3 linked regions of the Homo sapiens genome follow. The protein of the gene in region 2 interacts with the protein of the main gene of each other region in a biochemical or structural test. Each region holds a gene or a part of one and is shown on either strand. Other genes may lie near its edges.

The links.
Region 1: of the proteins of NGFR (region 2) and PRKACB, one has a biochemical effect on the other in vitro, tested with the Homo sapiens proteins (one study listed by BioGRID).
Region 3: the proteins of NGFR (region 2) and FSCN1 form a complex in vitro, tested with the Homo sapiens proteins (one study listed by BioGRID).

The regions. Positions count from the first base shown.
Region 1 is NC_000001.11:84,182,202-84,186,028, forward strand, and holds part of PRKACB (cAMP-dependent protein kinase catalytic subunit beta), read left to right. Parts: coding exon 1-127; intron 128-1,835; coding exon 1,836-1,934; intron 1,935-2,898; coding exon 2,899-2,981; intron 2,982-3,827. UniProt on the Homo sapiens protein: Mediates cAMP-dependent signaling triggered by receptor binding to GPCRs.
Region 2 is NC_000017.11:49,498,293-49,501,892, forward strand, and holds part of NGFR (tumor necrosis factor receptor superfamily member 16 precursor), read left to right. Parts: intron 1-3,600. UniProt on the Homo sapiens protein: Low affinity receptor which can bind to NGF, BDNF, NTF3, and NTF4. Forms a heterodimeric receptor with SORCS2 that binds the precursor forms of NGF, BDNF and NTF3 with high affinity, and has much lower affinity for mature NGF and BDNF.
Region 3 is NC_000007.14:5,595,781-5,599,607, reverse strand, and holds part of FSCN1 (fascin), read right to left. Parts: intron 1-3,827. UniProt on the Homo sapiens protein: Actin-binding protein that contains 2 major actin binding sites. Organizes filamentous actin into parallel bundles. Plays a role in the organization of actin filament bundles and the formation of microspikes, membrane ruffles, and stress fibers.

The sequences.
Region 1 (3,827 bases), on a different chromosome or scaffold from region 2:
TAATGCCGGACTTGAAGATTTTGAAAGGAAAAAAACCCTTGGAACAGGTTCATTTGGAAGAGTCATGTTGGTAAAACACAAAGCCACTGAACAGTATTATGCCATGAAGATCTTAGATAAGCAGAAGGTGAGTGTATTTGTTGTTATTTACCTTCAGGGTAAACTTTAGTTTTATCAGCTAGACTATTAAACAGATTCAGTATAATGACTTACCATTGACAGCTTCAAATAATTTTATTATTAAATTTAATTTTTATTGTAACTAAATTTTTATTGTAACTATATTATACATAGTTAGTATACAGTCAGCCCTTCCATATCTATGGGTTCCACGTCCATGGATTTAACCAATCACAGATTGAAGATATTTGGGAAAAAAATTACATCTATACCTAACATGTACAGACTTTTGTTTCTTGTTATTATTCCCTAAACAATACAGTGTAACAACTATTTACATAGCATTTACAATATATCAGGTATTATAAGTAATCTAGAGATGATTTAAAGTATATGGACAGTGTGTATAGGCTTTATGCAAAGCCTCTGTCATTTTATATAAGGGACTTGAGCACCTGGGCATTTTGGTTTCTGCTGTAGGTCCTGGAACCAACCCCCAGGGATACTGATGGACAACTATAATTTATTGTGACAATTATGGACTAATTTGTTTTGTAACTATTACAGAAGTTAAAATGTGTACAGTAGTGATCCAACCACTTCATGTTACAAATTTTGAAAACCTGAGGCCCAAAGATTTGAAATCATCTCAAGTCAGAAAGTTAGTTAAATAAAAGGCCTAGATTAAAACACAAATCTGACTCCTACTCAATTTATTTGCTCAATATTATCAGTATACTCCTAATTTTATATATTAATACCTGGCTGGTATCTTTAATTACTTTTGTTATTTATATTTAACTTCTTGACTTCTGTGACTATCCTCACATTGACCATTAGACTCCAGCAAGAAAGAATGCCACCTTCTAATGATTTACACATATACAAGAAAATTATTTATATGTCTTGCTAAAGTCACCACTTCTTAAATTCAAAATAGAATCACATATGGAATAGAATCACAGTCTTCGTGAAGTCAAGATAAATTACTTTCCCCTTCTATTAAATAGAAAATCTAGAGGAAGCTTAAGTCTAAATGACCTAGGATACAAAGATAGTTTTTGTTATAAAGATAGTTTTTTCCCCAATATTTTGTGTGTCCTCTTCTATGGCAATATAAAATAAATTTTTAGAATTTATACCTATATTTATTTAGATATTATAAAATGAAAATTGTTCATTTTTACTCACTATTTTTCAGTTATGGACTTTCTCTTCATTTTTAATTTTCTTATTCATCTTCTGAAGTATTTAAAATCACTATCTACTTATTGCAGAGATTTGAGCCAGCTTTTATAGAGGACTTTAAGTCATTAGGACCTTAGTATTTTCACATTCATTTTTAAATTACCTTAAGTAATTATATATTTATTTAAGCATAATTGACATAACTAATTTTTAAAGTAATTTCTTATGAGTTTGTTTCTTATTCCTACTTAGCTCTCACTTCTTAATTGAAACCATAATTGACCTTCCTAAGACCAAGTTTTAAATCCTCTATTAGGTTTTCATTTGAATCCTATTATTAAAAGTAATGGCAAAAACCGCAATTACTTATGCACCAACCTAAAAGTTGGTAATTGTTATTATCTTCCTTATCCAATTCTAACAATTTTGCTTATCCAAGTTTATTACTATATGGAAAACATTTTTTTAAATGATAACTTTTTAATTTTGCTTAAATACATTAAGAGATATTTATCTCTCAATTACAGGTTGTTAAACTGAAGCAAATAGAGCATACTTTGAATGAGAAAAGAATATTACAGGCAGTGAATTTTCCTTTCCTTGTTCGACTGGAGTATGCTTTTAAGGTAAATTTTAGTAATATCTAAATAAGATATTTTCAACCTAAATTTTTTTTAAGATGAAACTATAAATGGATTCTAAACCAGATGATAAGCCTGAAGAATATGAATAAACAAAACGAATACCTCTAGAGTTTGTGTAATTAAATCCTATTGTGCTTATAACTTAGGTAACGTTTGAAAAGGTTTTGATTCTCCCTGGGGAAATTGTTCAAAGGTGATACTCATGAGATGGTATTACAAAAAGAAATATTTCAATTTATCAAAAACCATAGGGATATCTTAATAACAATTCTTATGCAAATTCATACACCCAACACATTTTCTACTTTGATTAAGCCCTTTTTGCCACTATCTCATCTTCTTTTACTTAGTAATTTGAGTTCTAGTCTTTTCACTTATACAAAGCAAAATTTTTGTTCCACTATTCAAATGTCTGAAAAATTGTACCACATTTATTATTTAAATTGGTCACTTTTGAGCTCTTTGGAATGATACTGGCATCTCTCTGCAATATTGAATCATATGAAACATTTTAATCTTTTTTCTCCTTTATTCTTTAAATTAAATGAAGACCTATGTATTTAAAATATTAAAACCATTAATCTTTTATACATAAAATGTAAATATTCTTATTAACTTTTTAAATTGTTTTTTACCTTTGTTATTCTTTTGCATATATTATAACGTTACTTCATTGCCTGAGTATTTAATTGTTTGAGAACTAGATGTTCTCTGCAAGAAAAGGAAGAGCAAAAGTCCCAGACTAGTTTGTGGCAAAAATAACTAGGAGGGGAAAAATATGAGTGTCTCTGTATAGAAAAGCTAGAGCATGTTCCATTTATTCTTTATTTCTCAAGGTTATTAATCTGTCAGAGAGATTTTAAATTTTTCTAATTCAGCATTATATAATATTAAAATAATTTTGACCTAAGTTGAATAATTGTATTTCCTTTTTATTTGTTCATAGGATAATTCTAATTTATACATGGTTATGGAATATGTCCCTGGGGGTGAAATGTTTTCACATCTAAGAAGAATTGGAAGGTTCAGGTAACTAATGGTTTTGCTTTCTTCAAATCTTTATATGCTTGTGTTGTTTAACCAGATTTTTAAGTTGATGCCAATGCCAAAAACTTATTTTGTTTGATTAATATTTTGGCCATATGAAGCATTAGGTGGAAACAAAGAGGCCACATCATACACAAGTTTTAATATAAAGAATATAAAAATTTAATATAAAAAAAGGACTTTGAAGCCAATTTAAATGTTATACTACTGCTAGATATTGTGAGGGTCCACTACTTGAAGAGTTTTCAGAAAATGGAAAAATTAATTGAATTTTAAAATATCAATATTTATTAAACAAAGATTAATAATACAACTCCAGGACAGAGGATTGTTTTAAGGATGAAGATGGAAAATAAATATATAGAGAAATAATAATAATAGTATTATGGTAATAAGATTATAAAAGTTTGTTTTTCACAAATTTAATTCTCCTTAAAGTTCTTGCTAAGTTTAGTTTTTAAAATATACACATAATTTAACGGGAGTTTGTACCTCATCAGGTTATGACTAATAAGATCTCAGAGTTATTAAAATAGGTTATAGAATCTGATGGTTTTACCTGTACTTAATAGTTTATAAGCTTCTACCGTTCATTAATAATCACTAATAGAATAAAGCTAAAATAAAAAACAGGTACAGCTTCATTCAGTATAGTGTGTTGAAGTCAAAATAAAAATGTAGAGACAAATCTCTAAATTCAACATTTTATTGAGGAAGCAAGAATTGCAGTTTGAGGCATATACACAGACTAGGTGGTCTTCAATGTGTCTAGAAAACAAAGAAAAGGTTGGAGGTTTTATAAAAAGAAATTTTATGTTTATTTGTTTT
Region 2 (3,600 bases):
CTTCTCCACACGCAGAGGCCCTGCCCCCTCTCAAGTCTCTATGCTACATTATCTTGGGTAATTAGCTCCTTTCCTCCCAACTCCTCCCCTATCCAAAGGGAGTGAGGGGTATGTGCCAGTGCCTCCCCTGGGTTTGCATCGACCTCAAAAGGCCCTCCAGGTGTTTGAAAATCTCTCCCATCCCATGGCGGTGACCACGGCCCCATTCACTTAAGAGCTCTTTGCTGAAGCTGTTGGAATGGCCAGGGCTGATTATACTGAAACATTCGTATGGTTTCAAATACTTTCAACTGTTTCGCTGTTTCTCTCTTTTCTCTAATTAAAAAAAATGAAAATTCTTAAAAGTCAATTCATCTAAGGATCCTTCCACCTTAGTTCCTTGTAAGCCTTGAAATGGCCAAAACAAAAAGATTACAAGCGTTCTTAAAAATGAGATGAAATCATTCTGTCAAATGTGAAATGACTAAGTGTAACACATACAAATTTCAGGGAAATTTATCTGTCATCCCTATAAATTAATCCTTTTGGATCTGATTTTGGAGCAATTAGCCTGAATGTTAGTCACCCCTCCCTACTTGGCTAAACTCTCCCCTCCTGCCTGGGGTCTCCTTAAGATGAGATGCTTCTTTGATAACTAACATTTATTAAATTCCTACTGTAGACCAGACATATTTGCATAAATTATTTCACTTAATTCTCCCAGCAATCCTGGGCAATAGACATTATCAACCCAATGTTTTAGGTGAGAAAAACTGAGGTTTAGGGAAATTAAGTAATTTACCCTAAGCAACATACTATTAAGAAGCAGATCTAGGATTTTACAACATAGGGAACATAAAACAAGGACAGGAAATGCATGGTTACTAATTATCTGGCCCCTACTCCAAATGCAGTTTTTAAGAGAAGAGAGAGGACCTCAGGCTGCAGCAGGGAGAACAGGTTTCTTGGCAGGGGCATTTGCACAAAGCCCCCACACCACCCAAGACCACTGTAGACAGATCTCCTCAGCTGTCCAGAGCCCAACAAACTGGAACACAGCCAATGGCCACAAAGTAGACCCTGGAGGACAGAAAAGAGGGGTCCCAAAGTACATAAATACCTTATTTACTTGTGTAATACTTACAGCAATCCTATGATGCAGGTACTGTCATCATTACCTAATTATGACCCAGGACAAGTGTGGAGCCAGGATTCAGAGTGGCGTGAGAGCTCACAGATTGTATTCAGAGGCTTGCCTCCTCCTGGTTCAGATCCTATTTACATACCTTTATATTTTTTATTATTTTTATTTTATTTATTTATTTATTTATTTTGAGACGGACTGTCACTCTGCCACCCAGGCTGGAGTGCAGTGGCACGATCTCGACTCACTGCAACCTCTGCCTCCTGGGTTCAAGCGATTCTCCTGCCTCAGCCTCCTGAGTAGCTGAGACTACAGGCGCCCGCCACCACGCCTGGCTAATATTTTGTATTTTTAGTAGAGATGGGGTTTCACCATGTTAGGCAGGATGGTCTCGATCTCCTGACCTCGTGATCTGCCTGCCTCGGCCTCCCAAAGTGCTGGGATTACAGGCGTAAGCCACCACGCCCGGCCGGCACATGCCTTTCTACCAAGGCGAGTTCCACAGTTTCTGAAGATTCAATTAGACCTTAAATAGATTAGCGTGGTGGGGGAAGGGTTGCTTCAGGTCACACTCTGGTAGCAGCAAGAAGTGACAACTGATACCTTGACAGGAAGGGAGGAAACAGAAAAGCTATATTAAAAAAAAAAAAAAGGCTGACAGGAGAACTCAAAAAGACAAAAGTGTGGTAATTTGGGAAAAGAACAAAAGAGTTTCCCTGTATTGCAGCCCAGAGTAATCGCTGGTGTAAATACAGAGTCCCTGAGTCATGGGAAGCCATGAAGCTTTGCTCCAGAGACAGGGAAGGGTGCAGCCACCATGGTGAAAAGCAAAAATGATGAGGGCAGCAAAGCCTGGCAGTCTGGAATCTCGGCTAACCAACAGTCGCTCTCCCAGAGTTCTGGTTAATTGAGGTCATACAGTATTTTCATGTATTTCAACTCCACGCGTGTATGCATTGTGTCCCTACTGCATGCCAGATACCGCATCAGGCCCTGGGGCAATCCAGCTCCCTCAGGGAGCTGACAGTCCAATGAGGGAGTCTATAAAGTTCAGGCCAGACAAAAGCAGAGAGAACCGGAGAACAGGCTGGATGCGTAACATGGCAGCCCCACCTAATCTGTGAGCGGTGGGTGCAACAGGACCACTTCCTTGAGGAAGTGACATTTAAGCAGAGCCCTAAAGGATGAAAAGAAATCAGAACAGGCCCTTCTGGAATCTTGCCTCTTGAGGGAAAGCCTGCATCTGGGACCCTGAGGCTCCTGGTCTGCAGATGTTCCCAGCACTGAGTGTGTTGCTGCCCTGGAGGAGGTGCGGCAACACCAAGGTTCCACCTCCTCTGTTGCCTGTGCCTGTCCTGCTGGTCTCATGAGGACCACAGACTCCCTCCTGGGTTGATCCAACCTGTCTATCCCCCTGACTCCTCTGTTTCCTTCCCCACCAAACCCTGATGAGGCCGCAGGATATTTTAAAAGGCTGGAGGGAAAGGAGTGTCTTGGCCATGATCTGGCCAATGTAGAAGAAGCAGAATGCCCAAAACAAGCTTGTAAAGCTTCCCTCTGGTCCCACGACCCCAAAGCCCATACTTCTCAGCATCAAATGAGGGCTGCATGGTCTGGAGCTAGCAAAGCAGGCTTTGGAGTTTTATTAGACATTAAGTTTTTTTTAAAGGAACAGAAATATAAAGCAAGCCTCCACCAGCCCCTTCCCCTGGGGAATCTGGTGTTAAATTGTTACATCCACGAGCAAAGATGCTTCAGTGGCAGGAACCTGACTCCCCTTTCCCTTGGTTCCAGCCCTGTTCCCAGTGGCCACATGGGGGAGGGGGAGGACTGGTGGCTGGAAATCAAACCGTGGCAGGGCAGGGCTGCTGGGTGGTGAGAGCAGCCACTGTCCCATCATTGATAACAGTTCTCCCTTTCTCTCCATCTTGGTGCGAGGCTTTTGCCAAATGGCTGGCCTTTTGCCCTGGCACCAGGCTGTTGCCATCTCTGTAGAGAAATGAAGACTCAGAGGGAAGATGGGCAAGCAAGACCCCCAGTGTAGAGTCAGGATTCAAACCCAAGACCCTGGCCCTCTCCTTTCTGCTCTTGGGCATGGACATCTTCCATTTATTATTTAATATGTGGAATTAAGGACCTGGAGTAAGGCCCTGCTGGCCTTTGTTAGAAAAAGGCCCTCCTCTGGGTAGATACAACCCAGCAGGTGCAAAGCTTAGCAAATGGAGTTTGGGATAGGTTTCAGCTCTACTTGCCCCGTTGGCTGGGAGCCCTGTGCAAGCTACAACCTGTCCAACCATTCATGACATCCCTGTTGGTAGGCCCTCCGCTGGGCCTCTGGCCACCTTCCCCATGTGGTATATCCTTGGGATTCCAGGAGTTGCTGTAACCCCAGGATGAACTTTGCAGAAGGTCAGCAGCTGAAGCTCTGACCTCACACCCCCAGCAGCCTGCACGGGCACACTGTCCCTCACTTGCCT
Region 3 (3,827 bases), on a different chromosome or scaffold from region 2:
ACTCCAGGACTCAAGCAGTCCTCCCACCTTTGCCTCCCAAAGTGCTGGGATTACAGGGGTAAGCCACCACGCCCGGCCTCCCCATCCTGTTCCATCCTGACCCAACCATGCAGCCCCACATCTGCTCCACAGGTGGGGATCTTCATCCTACTTCACAAAGAGGGAGACTAAGGCCGGTGGTGGCATGTCCTTGCCTAAGGTCACACAGCAAGAGAAAGTAAGGGTCTGGCTGGCTCTCTGGACCGGAGGTGGGTGGCCCTCTTGCCACGCCCTTTCCCTGCCCCACCCTCTTGTCTATGGGTTCCTGGCCCCGCCCCTTCTTGGAACCCCTTGGGCTCCACCCCCCAGGTTCCCTGGGGCCCCTTAAGCCGGTAGCCCACCCTCTGCCCTCCGACGAGCATCCACCGCACTGGGTGGGCTGGCTCAGCCACCACACCCCAGCCAAGCACGGGAGGAGGATAAGGTGAGCAGGGGCTGGGTCCCAGGGTGCCGGGACCATCCTAAGGCCACACCCCAGGGAACACGAGGGCTGGGGCCTCTGCTCACTCAGCCCTCCACCAGCCAAGAGGCCCTGCAAAGGTCTGGCCCGCCCCACCCCCACTGCACAGAAGCCGCAGGGCTGCAGGGAGCCGTCAGGCCAGCCACACCCGCACAGCTGCCCTCACCGCCCCCTCATTCTGCTCAGAAGGGCCTGCATGTCTACCTACAGGCAGGGGCCGCACCCTGGGCCCTGGCCTGTGCCGGCCACAGAGCACCACCTGTCCAATGCGCTGGGGCTCCGCTGAAGCCCCGCTGATCGGAGGGAAGTTAGGGACCAGGTAAGAGGACAGCCTCCTGCAGGCCCACCCCAGCAGCAGAAAGGATGGAGGGAGAGGTTCTAGGTCCACCCCAGCAGCAGGAAAAAACAGAGGGCATCAGGGGCTCCAGGTTCCCCAGAAAGAGGGGCAAAAGGAGAAGGGGAGACAGTGGAACAGAAACCACATTAGCACAGCCTCGTCCTAGGGTTTACAGGGCTCGTCCTCACACAGCCTTGCAAATAAGCAGGGCGCTTACCAGCCCGCCTGGAACAAATGCAGGAAGCCGGGAGGCTCCTTCTCAATGAGACTTCCAATGGCTGCGCAGGGCTTAACTGGCGGCAGCCACGGGGCCACGTGTGAATGCACGTCGGCCTTAATCCTCCTGGCAACTCCATGAAATTTACACTAACCTCATCCCCCAAGCCAGAGAAGAAAGGGAGCTTCCCAGCCATTCCTGGGCCCAGGGCCACACAACTGCCGCCATCTGTACCACGACTCAGTCCCCATCAGCCTGTTGCGTTCAATCCTGGAACTGGTTTGATGCAAAGGTTTAGGCCAGCCAGTGAGGCACCCACCGCGGGGGGCCAGGCACCCTTGGATGAGTGCCTTCCCTGCAACCTTCCTCAGTTTCCCCACCTGTCAAAAGGGCCCAGCCTCTCCGCTCCGCCAGGATGTTGAAAGGATTTAGGGGCCTGGTGCCACGTAGACATCAGGCCACACCCCAGCAGGGAGGGATAGGGGAAAGGGGTGTCGTCCCCCCAGTAGAGCAGGGCCCCTCCTGGCTCCAAGGCCCTCGCTTGGCCTTGGAGTCTCTAATTAGAGCTGTGTTACTATGGGAACAGTGTTTTCTTCAGGATTTTTCTTTTCATCAACAGAGGCACAGAAATCCTGAGTCACAGGCCCACAGAAGCCCCCGGGAGCCAGGAGATTAAGAGTCTCCTGTGCCGGGCCCACGGGTACCTCTCCCTCCTCCTTCCAGAGAGGTCTAGCCCTGCCTGTCCTCCCCTCACAGTGGCCTTCCCTGTTTCCAGCCTTTGAGCCATCCTCTCTTTTTTTTTTTTTTAACTTTTTTCTTTTAATTATTTTAATTACAGTTTTTTGTTTGTTTGTTTTGGTTGTTTTTTTTGTTTTGTTTTGTTTTTTGAGATGGAGTTTCACTCTTGTTGCCCAGGCTGGAGTGCAATGGTGCGATCTCGGCTCACTGCAACTTCCGCCTCCCGGGTTCAAGGGATTCTCCTGCCTCAGCCTCCAGAGTAGCTGGGATTACAGGCATGCGCCACCACGCCCGGCTAATTTTTGTGTTTTTAGTAGAGATGGGGTTTCTCCATGTTGGTCAGACTGGTCTCAAACTCCCGACCTCCAGGTGATCCACCCACCTTGGACTCCCAAAGTGCTGGCATTACAGGCGTGAGCCACCGCACCAGGCCAAAAAAAATTTTTTTAAGACAGGGTCTCGTTCTGTTGCCCAGGCTGGAGTGCAGTGGCACGATCTCGGCTCACTGCAGCCTCAAACTCCCCGGCTCAAGTGATCCTCCCATCTAAGCCTCCTGAGTAGCTGGGACGACAGGCGTGCATCACCATGCCTGGCTAATTTTTTGTATTTTTTGTAGACAGAGGTTTTGCCATGTTTTCCAGGCTGGCCTTGAACTCCTGGGCTGAAGCCATCTTCCCTCCTTGGCCGAAGCCATCTTCCCTCCTTGGCCTCCCAAAGTGCTTGGATTACAGGCGAGAGCCAGTGTGCCTGGCCTTCTGAACCATTCTGTCTGTGGTGGCTCAGAGGGGCACCCCCTGGTTGCCTCACACCCTCCAGTCCCCATCACCACCCCCAGGCCTTAACGGTCCCCAGATGCCCCTGGCTTGTTCAAAACAGGCACTCCTTCCATCTCATTTAGGGGAGGGGGCCTGGAATGTTCTATGGCTTCACCTTACCACCCCGGTTTCCAGTCGATTCCTGCAACTACTTGGCCATTTCAAATGCCTCTGCATCCTTATACAAGCCATTCCCTGGGCTCAGAATGCCCTGCGCCTCGTGGGGAGAACTCTTACACATCCTGCAAAGCCCAGCTTGACGAGCCCTTCCTCAGTCAGCCCTCCTCAGAGTGGCTGGGAGAGGGCATGTCCCAAGCCAGCAGGGAGGACAGGTCCTATCCCTGGCATGGATCCCCAGATGCAAGCACAGGCTGGCGGGAGAGGACTCCCAGATGTGAGAGATGTGAGAGAAGACAGGAAGTGTGGTGAGGCATGGCCCAGGGTCGGGGCCAGGGTAGGTGTGGATCCTGGGGAGCAGGGAGGAGCCTGGGGCATGGCGGGAGGACAAAGGAGCACTCACTCAGCTGACCCAGCCTCTGGTGTGAAGGGCTGAAAGCCCCTGCCCAGGGCAGCTCTGGGCCAGCCCAAGGAGGCCTGGAATGCACACTTTACAGATGGGGAAACTGAGGCTGAAGAGCAGGGCGCAGCGTTTTTCAAAGGGGAGCACCCTGCCCCCACCGGGCCCGCCCGTGCAGGCCTGCAGAGATGATTCACATCCCCCCTGCCAGCTAAGTCCGGATCCTCCCCTTCCTGGCTGGCGTTCCCCAGCATGTGTGTCGGAAGCAGACGCCTCCCCCTTGCCACGCAGGCCCGTCCAAAATGGCCTCTGCAGACACGCCCCCCACGCCCACCCCTGCAGACTCCAGTTCCCAAAAGCCCCCCGGGAGTTGGCTGACATAGAAACGAGATAAGGACCCCAAGATCTGAGGCCAGAGGAGCCCCAACCTCGGCCCCCAAGTACCCCCACCCCCGCGCCGTCCCACATCCCTTTCAACTCCAAGCTGAGCCATCACCACCACCTCTCCTGGCTGCAATTTCTGGTTCCTCCCACCCTATCAGCCTGAATCACACACCAGACGCCCCCAGCAAGCTTCTCAGGAGAGGGGAGTTATCTGCCCAGGCTCGCCAAAAACACCCTCAGGCTCTCTGCAACTTCCTGGCCCCCAGGGCCAAGGCCACCTACTTCTGCGACTTCTTCCCCACGGGAGGCTGTGGCTGCAA